2 separate regions of the Homo sapiens genome follow, and region 1 is linked to region 2. The links come from fine-mapping of genetic effects on gene expression. A gene starts in region 2. The other region holds a variant in brackets. All regions are shown on one strand. Distances are between the middles of the regions.

Region 1 (8,800 bases), 28 kb after region 2:
ACCAATGCACTCCACCCTGGGCGACAGAGCAAGACTCTATGTCAAAAAATTTAAAAAGACAGTTCAGATTAATTTTTTAGCCTGTATGAGAGCTGTTCCCTACAATTAATTTTGCAAAATGATCTCCCTTACGTATCTGCCTACAGAATGTCAGTCTGTCCCGAAACTATCTAGATGCAGCCCAATGCTCTAATTCACACGAGACTGTCAGAAAGACTTCTAGAAACAAGCAGGCTGGCGACAGCCTTGCTGGCCAACATCTTCTGCATGCAACACAATCACAGCTTAGTCATCACCTGGGGAGGACCAGTTTTTAGGCAGTGATAGGCCCATATTGTTAATTCATTCCGATGTGCTGAGGATGGCTCAGCAGAAAGAAGGAAATAGACAAAAGAGTAAGACCCCAACAAAGGCCTGAGCTGAACAATGTTGAGAAACAAAGGCCACTTTGGCCTGGATAAGAGTTAATATGGGGCTGGGCACAGTGGGTCACACCTGTAATCCCAGCAATGTGGGAGGTCGAGGCGGTCAGATCACACAGTCAGGAGCTTAAGACCAGCCTGGCCAACATAGTGAAACCCCGTCTCTACTAAAAATACAAAAATTAGCTGGGTGTGGTGGTGCATGCCTGTAGTCCCAGCTACTTGGGAGGCTGAGGCAGGAGAATCGCTTGAACCCAGGATGCACAGGTTGTGATGAGCCGAGATTGTGCCACTGCACTCCAGCCTGGGCAACAGAGTGAGACTCTGTCTCAAAACAAACAAACAAACAAAAGAGTGAATATGGGAGCTTCTGGGTATTTGTGAGTTCCCTAAGAAGTGAACTTGCAGAGTCACACTCTCTCTGAGCTGTCTAATGGAAGTCTTCCAGAAAGCTACCTTTCTGATTATTTAAGTTTTTCACTCCAAAAATATTTAGTCCGGGCACGGTGGCTCACGCCTCAAATCCCAGCACTTTGGGAAGTCGAGGCAGGGGGGATTGCTTGAGCCCAGGAGATTGAGACCAGCCTAGCCAACATGGTGAAACCTTGTCTCTACTAAAACTATGCAAATTAGCTTGGCATGGTGGTGCATGGCTATAGTCCCAGCTACTGGGGAGGCTGAGGCAGAAGAGTGAATTGTGCCCAGGAGGTCAAGGCTGCAGTGAGTGAAGATCATGCCACTGCACTCCAGCCTGGGCGACAGAGTGAGATTCTTTTATTATTATTATTATTATTATTATTATTATTATTATTATTATTATTATACTTTAAGTTTTAGGGTACATGTGCACAGTGTGCCTGTTAGTTACATATGTATACATGTGCCATGCTGGTGTGCTGCACCCATTAACTCGTCATTTAGCATTAGGTATATCTCCTAATGCTATCCCTCCCCCCTTCCCCCACCCCACAACAGTCCCCAGAGTATGATGTTCCCCTTCCTATGTCCATGTGTTCTCATTGTTCAATTCCCATCTATGAGTGAGAACATGCGGTGTTTGGGTTTTTGTCCTTGCAATAGTTTACTGAGAATGATGATTTCCAATTTCATCCATGTCCCTACAAAGGACATGAACTCATCATTTCTTATGGCTGCATAGTATTCCATGGTGTATATGTGCCACATTTTCTTAATCCGGTCTATCATTGTCAGACATTTGGGTTGGTTCCAAGTCTTTGCTATTGTGAATAGTGCCACAATAAACATACGTGTGCATGTGCCTTTATAGCAGCATGATTTATAGTCCTTTGGGTATATACCCAGTAATGGGATGGTGGGGTCAAATGGTATTTCTAGTTCTAGATCCCTGAGGAATTGCCACACTGACTTCCACAAAGGTTGAACTACTTTACAGTCCCACCAACAGTGTAAAAGTGTTCCTATTTCTCCACATCCTCTCCAGCACCTGTTGTTTCCTGACTTTTTAATGATTGCCATTCTAACTGGTGTGAGATGGTATCTCATTGTGGTTTTGATTTGCATTTCTCTGATGGCCAGTGATGATGAGCATTTTCTAATGTGTCTTTTGGCTGCATAAATGTCCTCTTTTGAGAAGTGTCTGTTCATATCCTTTGCCTACTTTTTGATGGGGTTGTTTGTTTTTTTCTTGTAAATTTGTTTGAGTTCAAACAGAGCCAAATCATGAGTGAACTCCCATTCACAATTGCTTCAAAGAGAATAAAATACCTAGGAATCCAACTTACAAGGGACGTAAAGGACCTCTTCAAGGAGAACTACAAACCACTGCTCAATGAAATAAAAGAGGATACAAACAAATGGAAGAACATTCCATGCTCATGGGTAGGAAGAATCAATATGGTGAAAATGGCCATACTGCCCAAGGTAATTTATAGATTCAATGCCATCCCCATCAAGCTACCAATGACTTTCTTCACAGAATTGGAAAAAACTACTTTAAAGTTCATATGGAACCAAAAAAGAGCCCGCATCACCAAGTCAATCCTAAGCCAAAAGAACAAAGCTGGAGGCATCACGCTACCTGACTTCAAACTATACTACAAGTCTACAGTAATCAAAACAGCATGGTACTGGTACCAAAACAGAGATATAGATCAATGGAACAGAACAGAGCCCTCAGAAATAATGCCGCATATCTACAACTATCTGATCTTTGACAAACCTGAGAAAAACAAGCAATGGGGAAAGGATTCCCTATTTAATAAATGGTGCTGGGAAAACTGGCTAGCCATATGTAGAAAGCTGAAACTGGATCCCTTCCTTACACCTTATACAAAAATTAATTCAAGATGGATTAAAGACTTAAACGTTAGACCTAAAACCCTAAAAACCCTAGAAGAAAACCTAGACATTACCATTCAGGACATAGGCATGGGCAAGGACTTCATGTCTAAAACACCAAAAGCAATGGCCACAAAAGCCAAAATTGACAAATGGGATCTAATTAAACTAAAGAGCTTCTGCACAGCAAAAGAAACTACCATCAGAGTGAACAGGCAACCTATAAAATGGGAGAAAATTTTCGCAACCTACTCATCTGACAAAGGGCTAATATCCAGAATCTACAATGAACTCAGACAGAGCGAGATTCTATCTCAAAAAACAAACAAACAAACAAAAAACAGTAAAAAAAAATTTTTAGTAAGTTCCAATTGTGTGTCAGAATTGTGCTAGGCGCAGGGGGCAACAATAAGCAAGACAGATCAAGCCTATACCGTCTTGAAATTTAAGTTTAGGGACCACTCTCTGTCAAAGGATCCAGCGCTGGTAATATAGATTGCTGAAGGCCTTTGCCTTCTTTCCACCAGGCAACAGAATTTGTGTCCCCGTCACTGCTTCTTCTTCTGTGAAAAATATAGCTTCAGTTTGGTCCACGAATACAGAAGTTGGTCAGAGATATTTTCTTTCAAGCACACAACAAGCAAAACTTGGCCAATACACACCAATCAAATGCACTTCGTTTTTCCCTGGGAGCTCCTGCCACATCTCAGCCCTGCAGGGCAGTCTTCATAAGGGAGACAAAAGAAGGGCTATGCACTGGCACTGACAGTTGGGCAGG[C/T]AGTGCTCAAATAAGCCTAAATCTCAACATTCCAAGGGAATCTTCAAGATCAAGGTAGACCTGGTCCAGTCATCTCTTAATCTTTTAAGGATCACTGGCTGGATGTGGTGGCTCACGCCTGTAATCCCAGTGCTTTGGGAGGCCGAGGCAGGCAAATCATGAGGTCAGGAGTTTGAGACCACACTGGCCAACATGGTGAAACCCTGTCTCTACTAAAAATACAACAAATTAGCTGGGCATGGTGGTGCATGCCTGTAATCCCAGCCACTCAGGAGGCTGAGGCAGGAGAATCGCTTGAACCCAGGAGGCGGAGCTTGCAGTGAGCCGAGATTGTGCCATTGCACTCCAGCCTGGGCAACAGAGCAAGACTCCATCTCAAAAACAAAAAACAAAAAGGGATCACAGATCTCTTTGAAAATCAGTGGCCCCTTTAGACTTTCTGTGCCAAAAAAGTTATGCTTTCACCTCAGCACCCAGTTTTCCCTAGTTTATCTGAAGTTTCATGGACATATGATGTGCCCGAATTTCCTGGAGCTCCAGAGACCCCACGTCAAGAATTCCTAGTGTATATAAAAGCCCGTTTGAGCTCTAACATCCATGATTAACAGTCTCTGGGTTGGGTAACTCTGTTGGCTTAAATACAGAGGCAATGACATGCCTGTTTAAGTTCAGTGCAGGTCCCAGTTCAATTCCCATGTGAGTCATTATCTTCTGAAAATGGGAAAACTCTGCTCCATAGCAGTGGACAGAACCTCCAAAACCAGTCAGGTGACACAGCTCATAGTTTCTGAAAAAGACAAAACACCAAGCTCAAAAATAAGGTGGTTGGATCTATGGCATTGCAAAGCGACAACCCAAAGGTTGTGAGGGTTGCTGCCTGCTGCTGACATAGCAATAATACTCATTGGGCTCCTCCACTTCATATACGTTCTCTTCAATGGTATAGATGTTTTCTTCTGAGCGAATTCCCTCTGCTACTGCATTTGCCAATCCTGAGGGAGGGAGGTTGGCCAAAGAGATGAGGCTGTGGAAATAAAGTGTTGCGGTTGAGTTAAGCATTTCCCAGGTAACACGGAATAGAGTTAAGAGAATAGGCTTTCCCAAAGAGACAGCAACTAAATATAGTGCATGATCTTTGATCAGATGCTGAACAAGTGGAAAAGCCAAGAAATAGCAATAAAATACTATGGGGAAACAATTGAGAAAATGTCCATTAATTTTAATTTTCTTAGGTATAACAACAGCATTGTGATAGCTAAGAGAATATTTTTATTTCTCGGAGGTGCAGGCTGAAGTTTAGGTGAAGTATCAAGATGTCTGCAATTATGTACACATTTAGATTTTCAAAAAATGGGCCGGGCGCCGTGGCTCACGCCTGTAATCCCAGCACTTTGGGAGGCTGAGCCTGGCAGATCACGAGGTCAGGAGTTCGAGACCAGCCTGGCCAACATAGTGAAACCCCGTCTCTACTAAACATACAAAAAATTAGCCAGCGTGGTGGCATGCACCTGTAATCCCAGCTACTTGGGAGGCTAATGCAGAGAATCGCTTGAACCCGAGAAGCAGAGGTTATAGTGAGCCGAGGTTGTGCCACTGCACTCCAGCCTGGGTGACAGAGCCAGACTCCGTCTCAAAAAAAAAAAAAAAAAATTATTAATGCTTTAGATAGCATTCAATGGACAGAGGTTTTTGTTTTGTTTTGTTTGATGCTGGGTCTTTCTCTGTCACCCAGGTGGGAATGCAGTGGCACAATCATGGCTCATTGCAGCCTTCATCTCCTGTGCTCCAGCAATCCTTCCACCTAATGTTTCCATTTTTTTGTAGAGAAGAGGTCTCATCATGTTGCCCAGGCTGGTCTTGAACTCCTGGGCTCATGTGATCCTCCCACCTCAGCCTCCCAAAGTGCTGGGCTTATAGGCGTAAGCCACAGCACCTAGCCCAGAATCATTTTTGTAATCCAAATATATTGTATTCCATTCATGTGCCAAACATCACTAAAAGTCTAAAATCTAGTAAGTTATGTAAGCCATACCTATTTGAAATGGATGTGTGGGTGTGTATAATCAGGAACGAAGGTCAAGACAGGAGTCTATAACAGACTAGCAGTTCTCAGCCCTGACTGTTCACTAGAATCACCTGGAGAGCTTTTAGAACAATTTCTATGCTTAGGCTTCATCCCCAGAGATTCTGATTCAGTTGCTCTGGGGTTGGCCCTGCATTAGTACACTTCAGTGCCTGGGTGATTCTAATAGGAAACTAAAGTTGAAAATGCCTGGGCTGTTTACAGAAATGCTGAGAACAGATACTGGGTTTCTTGCTCACTTCTGTAACGCCTAAGTGCAGCCCAGACCCTGGATATAATAGGAGCTCAATCCGTTGATGTTTCAGTTCAGTGGAAAAACCATTAATATCGAGATGAATAAGCATGTTGTATTATTAGGGTGATAAATTCTATACCTTAACTTTAGAACTAAAGAAGCTAGAGGTGTCAGGAAGTACACACAGTAGCATGTTACATTTTCACTTCATAACTAGACCTAGAGAAAGAAGGAAGTATAAACTCAGATCTCAAAGCCCCAGGACAGGATTTCTCAGAGAAAAGATCAGACATGTTAGAGTAGGGACTTCCAAGATTCTCACCTTTTCCCAACCCCATTCCATTATTCTTACCTTAAATTCTGTATCTTCTCTTTGCTATGAGAATACCCTAGTAAGGGGGAAACAAAAGCCAATAAAAATGCATTCATAAAATAAATGAGACAAGAAATCAAATAGGTTCACTGGAAGCACGCATAGTTTAGGGAAATCTGGTCTCATCTCAGATTGAGTTAAATGAAACTCTCAACGTGTGCCTTAGATAGTTATATGGACTGTGTTAGAAAATAATAATAAAGATGCATTTTTCTTATTTAACAAATATTATGAGACCTCTACTATGTGTCTGGCAGTTTGCCTGGCACAAGGAACACAGGAACATAAAAGTGAATTGTGAGCCCTAATTTCACGAAGCTCACGCTCTCCTGTGGGAGACCAAAGAAATAAAAGAAAACAGTACCCCAGACCCAAGACCAGCCTGACCAACATGGAGAAACCCCGTCTCTACTAAAAATACAAAATTAGCTGGATGTGGTGGCCCATGCCTGTAATCCCAGCTACTCGGGAGGCTGAGGCAGGAGAATCACATGAACCCGGGAGACGGAGGTTGCGGTGAGCCAAGATTGCGCCATTGCACTCCAGCCTGGGCAACGAGAGCGAAACTCCGTCTCAAAAAAAAAAAAACAACAACAAAAAGGAAATAGTAAATAGGAAAACAAAATAATTTCAAATTATGATGTATTATAAAGGAAACCAACATCATAGTGAAACAGATAATAGAGAGGGTGGTCAGGGAAGGACCCTCAGAGATGAACTTTAAGCTCGTTTCTGAAATGAGTCAGCCAAGTAAAGAGCCAGAAGGAGCATTCCAGGATGAGGGAGCCCCTTGTAAAGATCTTGCTGAGTACCTGAAACTGAAAACGTGGCTGGATTAAGGGAGCGGCCCAAGATAAGGTCTGAAAGGTAGGCTGGGGCTAGGTCCAATAAGACCTTTCCAGCCATAATCAGGAGTCTGGATTTTATTCTAAGACCTGTAGGAAACCTTAGATTTCCTTGAAGGGCAGAGATGTGATCCTTATTTGTTTTGGGTTTCTTTTACCCGCTGAAAACAACTACGTTATCTCATCATTTCTGTGTTGTGGGTCAGGAATCCAGGTGTGGCTTACTGGGTACCTCTGGATCAAGGTCTTTCAAGGTGTCTTCTGGGGATGCAGTTTCAAAAATTTGAAACTTAAAATTTTCCTTTCTTTTCTTTTCTTTTTTTTTTTTTTTTTTTTTTTTTGAGACAGGGTCTTGCTCTGTTGGCCAGGCTGGAATGCAGTAGTAAGATCATATCTGATTGCAACTTTGAACTCCTGGGCTCAAGGGATCTACCCATCTCAGCTTCTGAGTAGCTAGAACTATAGGTGCACACTACCACAGCTGGATAATTTTTTTTAATGTTTTTGGGCTGGATGCAGTGGCTCACGCCTGTAATCCTAGCACTTTGGGAGGCAAGGCAGGTGGATTTCTTGAGCTTGGGAGTTCGAGACCAGCCTGGGCAACATGGTAAAACCTCATCTCTACTAAAAATACAAAAACTAGCCAGGTATGCTGGCACATGCCCGTGGTCCTAGCTACTTGGAGGCTGAGGCAGGAGAGTTGCTTGAACTCGGGAGGTAGAGGTTGCAGTGAGCCATGATCACACCACTGCACTCCAGCCTGGGTGAATCTCAATATGTTGCCCAGGCTAGTCTCAAACTCCTGGCCTCAAGTGACTCTCCTGTCTTGGCCTCCCGAAGTGTTAGGATTATAGGCATGAGCCATTGTGCTCAGACATTGATTTGGGTTTTAATATTGGATTCGAAGGAGGAATAAAGAAATGAGAAGATAAATTAAGTAGAAATAATGGTGTCTTGGAGTAAGGAATGGCCAAAAGAGATGCAGAATAATGAAAACACTTTAGATGTATGTTGGAGGAAGACTGCAGGAATCTTCTGTTGTTGTTTTTCTCTGAGACAGGGTCTCCCTGTGCTGTGTCACCCAGGCTAGAATGCAGCAGCAAGATCATAGTTCATAGCCTCAAACTCCTGGGCTCAAGTGATCTTCCTGCTTCATTCTCCTGAGTAGCTGGGACGATAGGCGTGCACCACCATACCCAGCCCTAAGGAATCTCAACATCTAAGGATCAGGCAGAAGAAGATCTGAAAAGCAATGGATCAAAGAGAAGAATGTCATTTCAGAAGCCAAGAGAAGGAGGACTTTCTAGAATGAGTGATCAATTTAAAAGGTTGACTATAATAAAGATAAAGGTATCAGGCTGGGAACGGTGGCTCACGCCTATAATCCCAGCACTTTGGGAGGCCAAGGCGGGCAGATCATCTGAGGTCAAGAGTTTGAGACCAGCCTGGCCAACATGGTGAAACCCCCGTCTCTACTAAAAATACAAAATTAGCCAGGCATGGCGGCACATGCATGAAATCCCAGCTACTCAGGAGGCTGAGGGGGGAGAATCACTTGAACCCGGGGAGGCAGAGGTTGCAGTGAGCCAAGATTGCACCATTGCACTCCAGCCTAAGCAACAAGAGTGAAACTCTGTCTCAAAAAAAAAAAAAAAGATAAAGGTATCTGTTAATATTTAATTTAGAAAACTGAAGGTCAGTGGTGAGCTTGACCATTTCCGTTGTGCTTTGGAGCAGAAACTAGA
Region 2 (8,800 bases):
GATGATTTAAAGCATATGGGACTATGTGCATAGTTTACATGCAAATACTACACCATTTTATATAGGGACTTGAGCATCTGCAGATTTTGGTATCAAGGGGGTCCTGGAAACAATTTCCCATAGATATCAAGGAACAATTGTACTGCTGTAGGAGCTAGTTTGCTGATTCTAGCCTGACCTTGAATTATGCTTGGCCTTGTAACTTCATCTACACAAAAGTTATTCTATTTCCCAAGAACAAGAGTTTATTTAAAAACAGGACTTACGGGAACCTCCTCTTTCCCTATTAAGAAAAAAGAAAATTACTACCGAACAGAAAATTCAATTAACTAGCAAGAAATATCAAAGAAAAACTTACGTGGCACAATCTCCAATGATACGGTGATTTTCATGTCATTGAACCACCCACGGTGCTCAACACGGCAACAATATACGCCACTGTCAGACACAGCTGTATTTTCTATGGTCAAAGAGACATCCCTTCTTGAAAGGTCCCCCAATAGCTTATAGCGTGTGTCCTTCCGATAGGTGACGTGGGTTCCATTGGTCCAGACAATGCCATTTTGGCATGTGAATAGAGAACATGAGCCTCTATTCCAGCACATGGATGTGACAGCTCCACTGTAGTGGCAGGGTAGTGTGACAGATGGACCTGCCTCTCCACCAACCTTTACAGAACCAGCTACAGAATCTGCAAAGAAGAAAAGACAAACTGAGAATGAGCCCTCACTATTTCATCTTGGCTGGGCACAATGGCTCACGCCTGTAATCCAAGAACTTTGGGAGACCAAGGCAGGCAGATCAACCCAGGTCAGGAGTTCAAGACCAGCCTAGCCAACATGGCAAAACCCGATCTCTACTAAAAAAAAAATTACAAAAATTAGCGGGGTGTAGTGGTGTAATCCCAGCTACTCAGGAGGCTAAGGCAGGGAGAAGTGCTTGAACCTGGGAGGCGGAGGTTGCAGCAAGCTGAGCTCGTGCCACTACACTCCAGCCTGGGTGACAGAGCAGACTCTGTCTCCCCCTCCCCCAAAAAAAAATTCTCTTAATTTTTTTTACTTGTTTTACTTTCTTTAAAAAAATATTTTATTCATTTTTTAATTGTTTATTTTTTATTTTTTTAAGACAGAGTCTTGCTCTGTCACCCAGGCTGTAGTGCAGTGGCGCAAAGATCTTGGCTCACTGCTACCCCCGCCTCCTGGGTTCAAGCAATTCTCATGCATCAGCCTCCCAAGTAGCTGGGATTACAGGCACATGCCACCACGCCCGGCTAATTTTTGTATTTTTAGTAGAGACAGGCTAGTCTTGAACTCCTGACCTCAAGTGATCCACCCACCTGAGCATCCCAAAGTGCTGGGATTACAGGCATGAGCCACCATGCCCAGCCTTGTAAATAGACATTATAGCTGGAAGGTTTTTCCCCTTTTTCCAAGTTAGCTGATATAGCTGGAATTTTTAAAATTTGAGATTATAAGCATTTTTCTATGCTAGCATTCTTTTAATTTTTTTTTTTAGACAAAGTCTTTCTAAAAAGAATTTCTTCTTTTTTTTTTTTGAGACAGAGTCTTGCTCTGTCGCCCAGGCTGGAGTGCAGTGGTGTGATCTCGGCTCACTGCAAGCTCCGCCTCCCAGGTTCACGCCATTCTCCCGCCTCAGCCTCCCCAGCAGCTGAGACTACAGGCACACGCCGCCACGCCCGGCTAATTTTTTTGTATTTTTAGTAGAGACGGGGTTTCACCATGTTAGCCAGGATGGTCTCGATTTCCTGACCTCGTGATCTGCCCGCCTTGGCCTCCCAAAGTGCTGGGATTACAGGTGTGAGCCACCACGCCCGGCCACCAAGAAATTCTTGTTTAATTTTGCCTAATACTAGTATCATTTTTTTGGATTACACATATAATGCATGCTATTACAATTTGGTTATAGAAGTATATAATGAGAGATTATTTTTCCCCCATAATCCCAAAGGCATATATCACTCCAGAAATTTGTGTTTAAAAATTAGGATATGTCTATTTTACTCTTTCCTTATCTCATAGAATGTTTTGAATTAAAGTGTTTATTTCAAAATAAAATACTTAGGCCAGATGTGGTGGCTAACGCCTATAATCCCAGCACTTTGGGAGACTGAGGTGGGAGAATCACTTGAGCCCAGGAGGTCGAGGTTGCAGTGAATCAAGATTGCCCAACTAGGCCAGGCGCGGTGACTCACGCCTATAATTCCAGCACTTTGGGAGGCCGAGGCAGGTGGATCACAAGGTCAGGAGTTCAAGATCAGCTTGGCCAAGATGGGGAAACCTTGTCTCTACTAAAAATACAAAAAAATTAGCTGGTAGTGGTGGCAGGTACCTGTAATCCCAGCTACTTGGGAGACTGAGGCAGAGAATTGCTTGAACCCAGGAGGCGGAGGCTGCAGTGAGCCGAGATCACGCCACTGAACTCTAGCCTGGGCGACAGAGTGAGACTCTGTCTCAAAAAAAAAAAGATTGCCCTACTGCACTCCAGAGTGAGACCTCATGAAGAGAGAGAGAGAGAGAGAGAGAGGAAAGAAAGAAAGAAAGAAAGAAAGAAAGAAAGAAAGAAAGAAAGAAAGAAAGAAAGAAAGAAAGAAAGAAAGAAAGAGAATTGAATGTGGCTGAAAAAAATCGGAAGGCACAAAAAAATACAATAAGGATTAACTCTCCCTCCACCTCCCACCCTCTGCCCCCATCCCACATTACCCACTGTCACTATTTCCTATATACATGTGTCTATGCATATACATCTAACCACACCCTTTTTGTTTAAACACAAAGGGCAGCCTGTGACACACTGTGCTGCATCTTGCCTTGTTCATTTAGCCATGAATGTTGTAATTCACAGCAGTTAAGCAATTTCTTTGGCCTAAAACTTTATTCTGGTCCTGCTCACTAGTTAACTCATAGCCATACAACGGTACCCAAAGAACATCTACATTAATCCACCACCACCATCCCCTCCCCTTCCCCTACCCCATTCTCTGGCTTCTAACCCCCCTCTACTCCCTTCTTCCCGCCCAGGGCACCTACTCACTTACCTGCCAGATGTAGGATGAGGCTTAAGATGACCACTTGAGGATGCATTATGGGATCAGCCTGAAGGAAAATGAGCAGACAGGCTGGTTGGTACCCTCCACCAGATGGTATCTGATCAAGTCTTAAATCTCAGATTGCAACTTATCTTTTCACCCAGTTGGTTGATTCATATGAGCCTGCTCTGCTGGAAATGAGAGAAGACCACATATAACGGCTTCAGAGCTCTGTTAGTTCCCTGCAGCTGAGAGCTCTGTGCCTTCCAAAGGACAGGGAAAGCTGTCCACAGAAACAGCCCCTGACTTCCCAGCTTCTTCCCCACACATAACCGCCAAACTGACTCCTGGTCCTGATACAGGGTATCAGGGGAACAAACAAAAAGGAAACAGGGCCGGGCGCGGTGGCTCAAACCTGTAATCCTAGCACTTTGGGAGGCCAAGGCGGGCAGATCACGAAGTCAGGAGATCGAGACCATCCTGGCTAAAAGGGTGAAACCCCGTCTCTACTAAAAATACAAAAAATTAGCCGGGCGTGGTCACTGGCGCCTGTAGTCCCAGCTACTCGGGAGGCTGAGGCAGGAGAATGGCGTGAACCCGCGGGAGGCGGAGCTTGCGGTGAGCCGAGATCGCGCCACTGCACTCCAGCCTGGGCGACAGAGCAAGACTCCGTCTCAAAAAACAAAACAAAAAAAAAGAAAAGAAAAGGAAACTGGAAGCAGAGAACCAGCGTGGCTCAATGGCAGCACGAGAGCAAATGCCAGCCTTCCAGTGGCAGAGATGCACTTGCTTTTCAGAGTAAACTGGGCCTCTGGTGGACGTGGAGCTTTTCCTACTCAGTGGCCACAACGACTTATCCCTAGCCTTAACAGTCATATTGCCAAGTTTGCCATTAGCAAGAGAAATTGAGAGTGAATGTGAATCACTGTGCCTAACCTTTCATGCTCCTGTACAACATGCTTCAGACTACACCTCCTTACCAAGGGACTTCAAGAGAATGCTTCAGGAAACAGAAGTCTGGAGCAGACTTACGTTCAGATCCAGGCTCTGTCACTCACAATGCTGGGTAACCCTGAGAGTTCCTGAGTTCTCTTCAAACCTCTATTTCCTCAGTTGTAAAATAGCACTAAAAATGCTTCCTCTATCTCCCACCAAGGATTGATATAATAAGCAAAAAGGGCCACGGAAGAACTTGGAAAACTAAACCTACATCATATGCAGTAATAGCACTAGCTGAGGTTTTTGGAGAATACTATATAGCAGGCTCTGTGTCAAGCACCCACATGCGTTAAATCGGGCTGTTGACTTCTGCTGTTAATCATTAAACCATACAAACATGAGTAAGCTTGCCTAGTACTTCATTAACTCCTCTTCTGGTCTAAGAATTCAGTAACTTCCAAGGAGGCAGTGGTGGTCTGTATCTTGCAGCTCATGACAGGGTTCATGGGGAAGTGGATGATCTCAGCATAGTGTTTTGTATGGCAGCGTTTAAAAATTCATTTCTTGACCGGGCATGGTGGCTCGTGCCTGTAACCCCAGCACTTTGGGAGGCCGAGTAGGCCAGTCACCTGAGGTCGGGAGTTCAAGACCAGCCTGGCTAACACGGTGAAACCCCGACTCTACTAAAAATACAAAAATTAGCTGGGGGTGGTGGCGGGCGCCTGTAATCCCAGCTACTTAGGAGGCTGAGGTAGAAGAATTGCTTGAACCTGGAAGGTGGAGGTTGCAGTGAGCCGAGATCAAGCCATTGCACTCTAGCCTGGACAACAAGAACAAAACTCCATCTCAAAAATAAAAATAAAAATTCATTTCTTGCCAGGCACAGTGGCTCACGCCTGTAATCCCAACACTTTGGGAGGCCAAGGCAAGTGGATCACCTGAGGTAAGGAGTTTGAGACCAACCTGGGCAACATAGCAAGACTCCCTCTCTGCAAAAAAAACGAACAAAAAATATAGTCAGGCCTTGTGTACCTGACCGTAGTCCCAGCTACTCAGGAGGCTGAGGCAGGAGGGTTGCTTGAGCCCAGCAGTTGGAGGCTATGATTGTGCCACTGCACACCAGCCGGGGTGACAGAGCAAGACCCTGTTTCTTAAGGAAAAAAAGATTGAAAAAAAAAAGCTAATTCAATTCAACCAGTTATTACTAACATATTGAGCTGATGGGACATGACTCAATATACTAGGGACGTCAAAAATCCAGACTTGTGCAATCGGGCAGGGACATGGGTAAGTAAGCAACTAATGAAATCAGGATAAGTGAGGTAAAGGTAAATATATAATCAGACTACATCATTCCCCCACTTATAACCCTCTCATAACTCTCTCAGAAAAATAATAATAATAATAATAATAATAATTCCTAAATCTTTACTCAAATTACTGAAGCCCTGGTGGTCTGGCCCTGACCTACCCCATAGATTTCTTCTACCACTCTCTCCCCTGCTGACTCAGCCCCAGCTACTAGAGCTTTCTTTCCAACTTGCCTCAACCCTAAGGCCTTTTCCGTGGCTGTGTTCTCCATCTAGCTCCCCAGCCCCACCATTTTCACTTTTTTCCTTTTCATTTTTATCCCGGCTTAAATATGACCTCCCTGGACATTTTTCACAGGTCCTTCAATCTAAAGTAGCCAACCAGTCCCTCTCACTATTATTATCTTGTTTTCCTTAATCCATTTTATCTGTGTGTGCAATATATGTGGTGTCTGTCTCTATTCCCTCCTATAGAGTGCTGCCCGGTAGAATTTTAGTAATGGAGTTATTCTGGTAACGGAGTTATTCTGGAACTGATGAGCCACAGAGAGCCAAGACAGGGATGTGGAGCCAGTGCTCTGAGATGTTACATAACTGTACAATTCCATAGGATTTGAATTTGAATTCCATAGGATCGATTCTGTCTCCAGTAGAATATTGGTTACAGAGTTATTCTGTGTGAGTGTCGTGCACTACAGCAGCCACTAGCCACATATGACTATTGAGCACTTGAAATGTGGCTAAGGCAACCAAGGCATTTTTAATTTTTTTTTTTTCCAAGACAGAGCCTGACTCTGTCACCCAGGCTGGAGTGCAGTGTCACAATCTCAGCTCAGTGCAACCTCCATCTCCTGGGTTTAAGTGATTCTCTTGCCACAGTCTCCTGAGTAGCTGGGACTACAGACACGCGCCACCATGCCTGGCTAATTTTTGTATTTTTAGCAGAGGTGGAGTTTCACCATGTTGGCCAGGCTGGGCTGGAACTCCTGGCCTCAAGTGATACGCTCATCTCAACTTCCAAAAGTGCTGGAATTACAGGTGTGAGCCGCCATGCCTGGCCTAAAAATTTTTATTTAATTTCATTTTAATTAAAATTTCAGATTGCTTGAGCCCAGGAGACAGTCTTCGGGGAGTTGAGATGGCACCACTGCACTCAAGCCTTAGATGACAGAGCTTTCAAAAAAATAAATTAATTAAAAACAAAAAAATAAAATTTAAATTGTCACACATAGTGACTGTGTTGTGTGGCACCCAACTCCAGACCATAAACTCCTTTAAGGCAATTTAAGTGTTGAAGCCAGGCATGGTTGCTCACACCTGTAATCCAAAGGAGGCCGAGGTGGGAGGATCACTTGAGGTCAGGGGTTCCAAACCAGCCTGGCCAACATGGTGAAACCCAACTCTACCAAAAATGCAAAAATTAGCCAGGCGTGGTGGCGGGTGCCTGTAATCCCAGCTACTCAGGAGGCTGAGGCAAGAGAATCGCCTGAACCCGGGAGGCAGAATTTACCCTGAGCGGAGATCATGCCACTGCACTCTGGCCTGGGCCACAGAGTGAGACTTCTCAAAAAAAAAAAAGTTATTAATTGAATAGATAAACAAATGGAAACACAAACCCATAGGGAAAGACCATTCATTTTGATGACGGAATGTGGGGGGTGGGAAGAATTTCTTAAAAAGTGACATGTGAGAAGAATGGGTGGAGGGTGTTTCAACTGGAGGAAATGATGAGCCAGAGAGAGCCAGGACAGGGATGTGGAGCCAAGGCTCTGAGATGTTACATAACTGTACAATTCCATAGGGTTGAATTTTCTGACACAGGACCATCTCCCATGAGAGACGCCTGTGTTCTAAAGACTCCCAAACAATATAGCACAGTGGATTTTTTTAATGAGCTATACAACCTCCAGGGATCACTACTCTTTAGGGCAAACTTCATGACCCCCCTGAAGGATGCATCCCAGTTGTAGGGTAAAGCTGGAAGTGACAATACTTGGGCACCAAAGCTGAATTTCCAGCTGCTCACTAGGGAGCTGCATCTGTATAAACCAAGATTAACGGCAGTGAATTGAAATGATTCAGAACATGGGCCGGGCACGGTGGTGGGTGCCTGTAATCCCAGCTACTTGGGAGGCTGAGGCAGGAGAATTGCTCGAACCCGGGAGGTGGAGGTTGCAGTGAGCTGAGATCGTGCCACTGCACTCCAGCCTGGACAACAGATTGACACCCTGTCTCAAAAAAAAGAAAGAATTCAGAAAAGAAAATAATTCACTGTTCTTTCTTGCAATCACCACTTACTTCCCTGCTATCTCAGCGCACATCGTACCTCCAGCTCCAGCCTCCTGCAAAACAGTTCAGCTGTTCATATTCCCCATGCTTTCACCACAGCAAGATCTTCTTAGGCCCCCTCCACAACTAGGGACTCACCAACTCCACATCATTGTACCTGTCAGTCTCTCCCTCATCCCCATCACTTTATATTAGGCCTCTATAATCCAGACTTCTGCAATTCCCTCCAAAACTGTCTTCCTACCTTTCAGTTCTCTTCCTGCCCTGCCCACTGCCCTAAGCTAGTTATTTTCCTTCACTTACTCCTCTGATTTCATAACAAGTAATATAATGCTTCTTTTTTTTATATCTTTTACAAAGATATAAAAATTACAGGGTACCACCTATGTTTACCATAGAAAATACATAAAAGCCCAAGTATGGTGGCTCACACCTGTAATCCCAGCACTTTGGGAGGCCAAGGCAGGAGGATCACTTGAGGTTAGGAGTTCAAGACCAGCCTGGCCAATATGGCAAACCCCTGTCTCTACTAAAACTACAAAAATTAGCCAGGCGTGGTGGCGCGTGCCTGTAGTCTCAGATACTAGGGAGGCTGAGGCAAGAGAATCGCTTGAACCTGGGAGGTGGAGGTTGCAGTGAGCTGAGATCACACACCACTGCACTCCAGCCTGGGTGACAGAGCGAGATTCTGTCTCAAAAAAAAAAAGAAAGAAAGAAAGAAAGAAAGAAAATATATAAAAATACCAAAAGTGTACTCATTTAACAATTATTTGTTGATGATCTGCGATATGTTAGAAATGATCCTATTCATCTGGAATGTACCAATGAACCAAAGACCCCTGGCCTCATGTAACTTACATTTTTTTTTTTTTTTTTGAGATGGAGCTTCGCTTTTTTTGCCCAGGCTGGAGGGCAATGGCACGATCTCAGCTCACTGCAAACTCTGCCTCCTGGGTTCAAGCGATTCTCCTACCTCAGCCTCCCAAGAAGCTGGGATTACAGGCATGCATCACCACACCGGCTAATTTTTGTAATTTTAGCAGAGACGGGGTTTCACCATGTTGGTTAGGCTGGTCACGAACTCCTGACCTCAAGTGATCTGCCCGCCTTGGCCTCCCAAAGTGCTGGGATTATAGGCGTGAGCACCACTCCTGGCCTCATGTAACTAACTTTTAACTGAAAAATAAATATACAGATTTTTAAAACATCACTAAAA

Alleles and levels. Alleles are on the strand shown, and positions count from the first base shown. SD is a standard deviation of normalised expression in the study named.
As copies of C replace T in region 1, the expression in monocytes after R848 of the gene that starts at base 4,274 in region 2 goes down (moderate effect, 0.63 SD a copy in Quach 2016).

Evidence for each region. PIP is the estimated chance that this variant, and not a neighbour inherited with it, causes the effect. A credible set is the group of variants that fine-mapping cannot tell apart.
Region 1: its variant is the best candidate, but not a certain one, in a credible set for the expression of HAVCR1 in monocytes after R848 (Quach 2016, PIP 0.52).

The regions. Positions count from the first base shown.
Region 1 is chr5:157,082,752-157,091,551 of GRCh38, forward strand. It overlaps HAVCR2 (hepatitis A virus cellular receptor 2), which reads right to left. Exons shown (of 7, transcript NM_032782.5): 6 at 6,190-6,226; 7 at 3,081-4,543. The coding sequence ends at 4,351. Among named protein-coding and RNA genes, the nearest start is that of HAVCR2, 22 kb to the right of the region's middle. The variant C/T (reference allele first, on the strand shown) is at 3,520.
Region 2 is chr5:157,054,843-157,063,642 of GRCh38, forward strand. HAVCR1 (hepatitis A virus cellular receptor 1) reads right to left here and starts at 4,274. Exons shown (of 9, transcript NM_001173393.3): 1 at 4,079-4,274; 2 at 3,056-3,113; 3 at 359-691. The coding sequence starts at 3,101.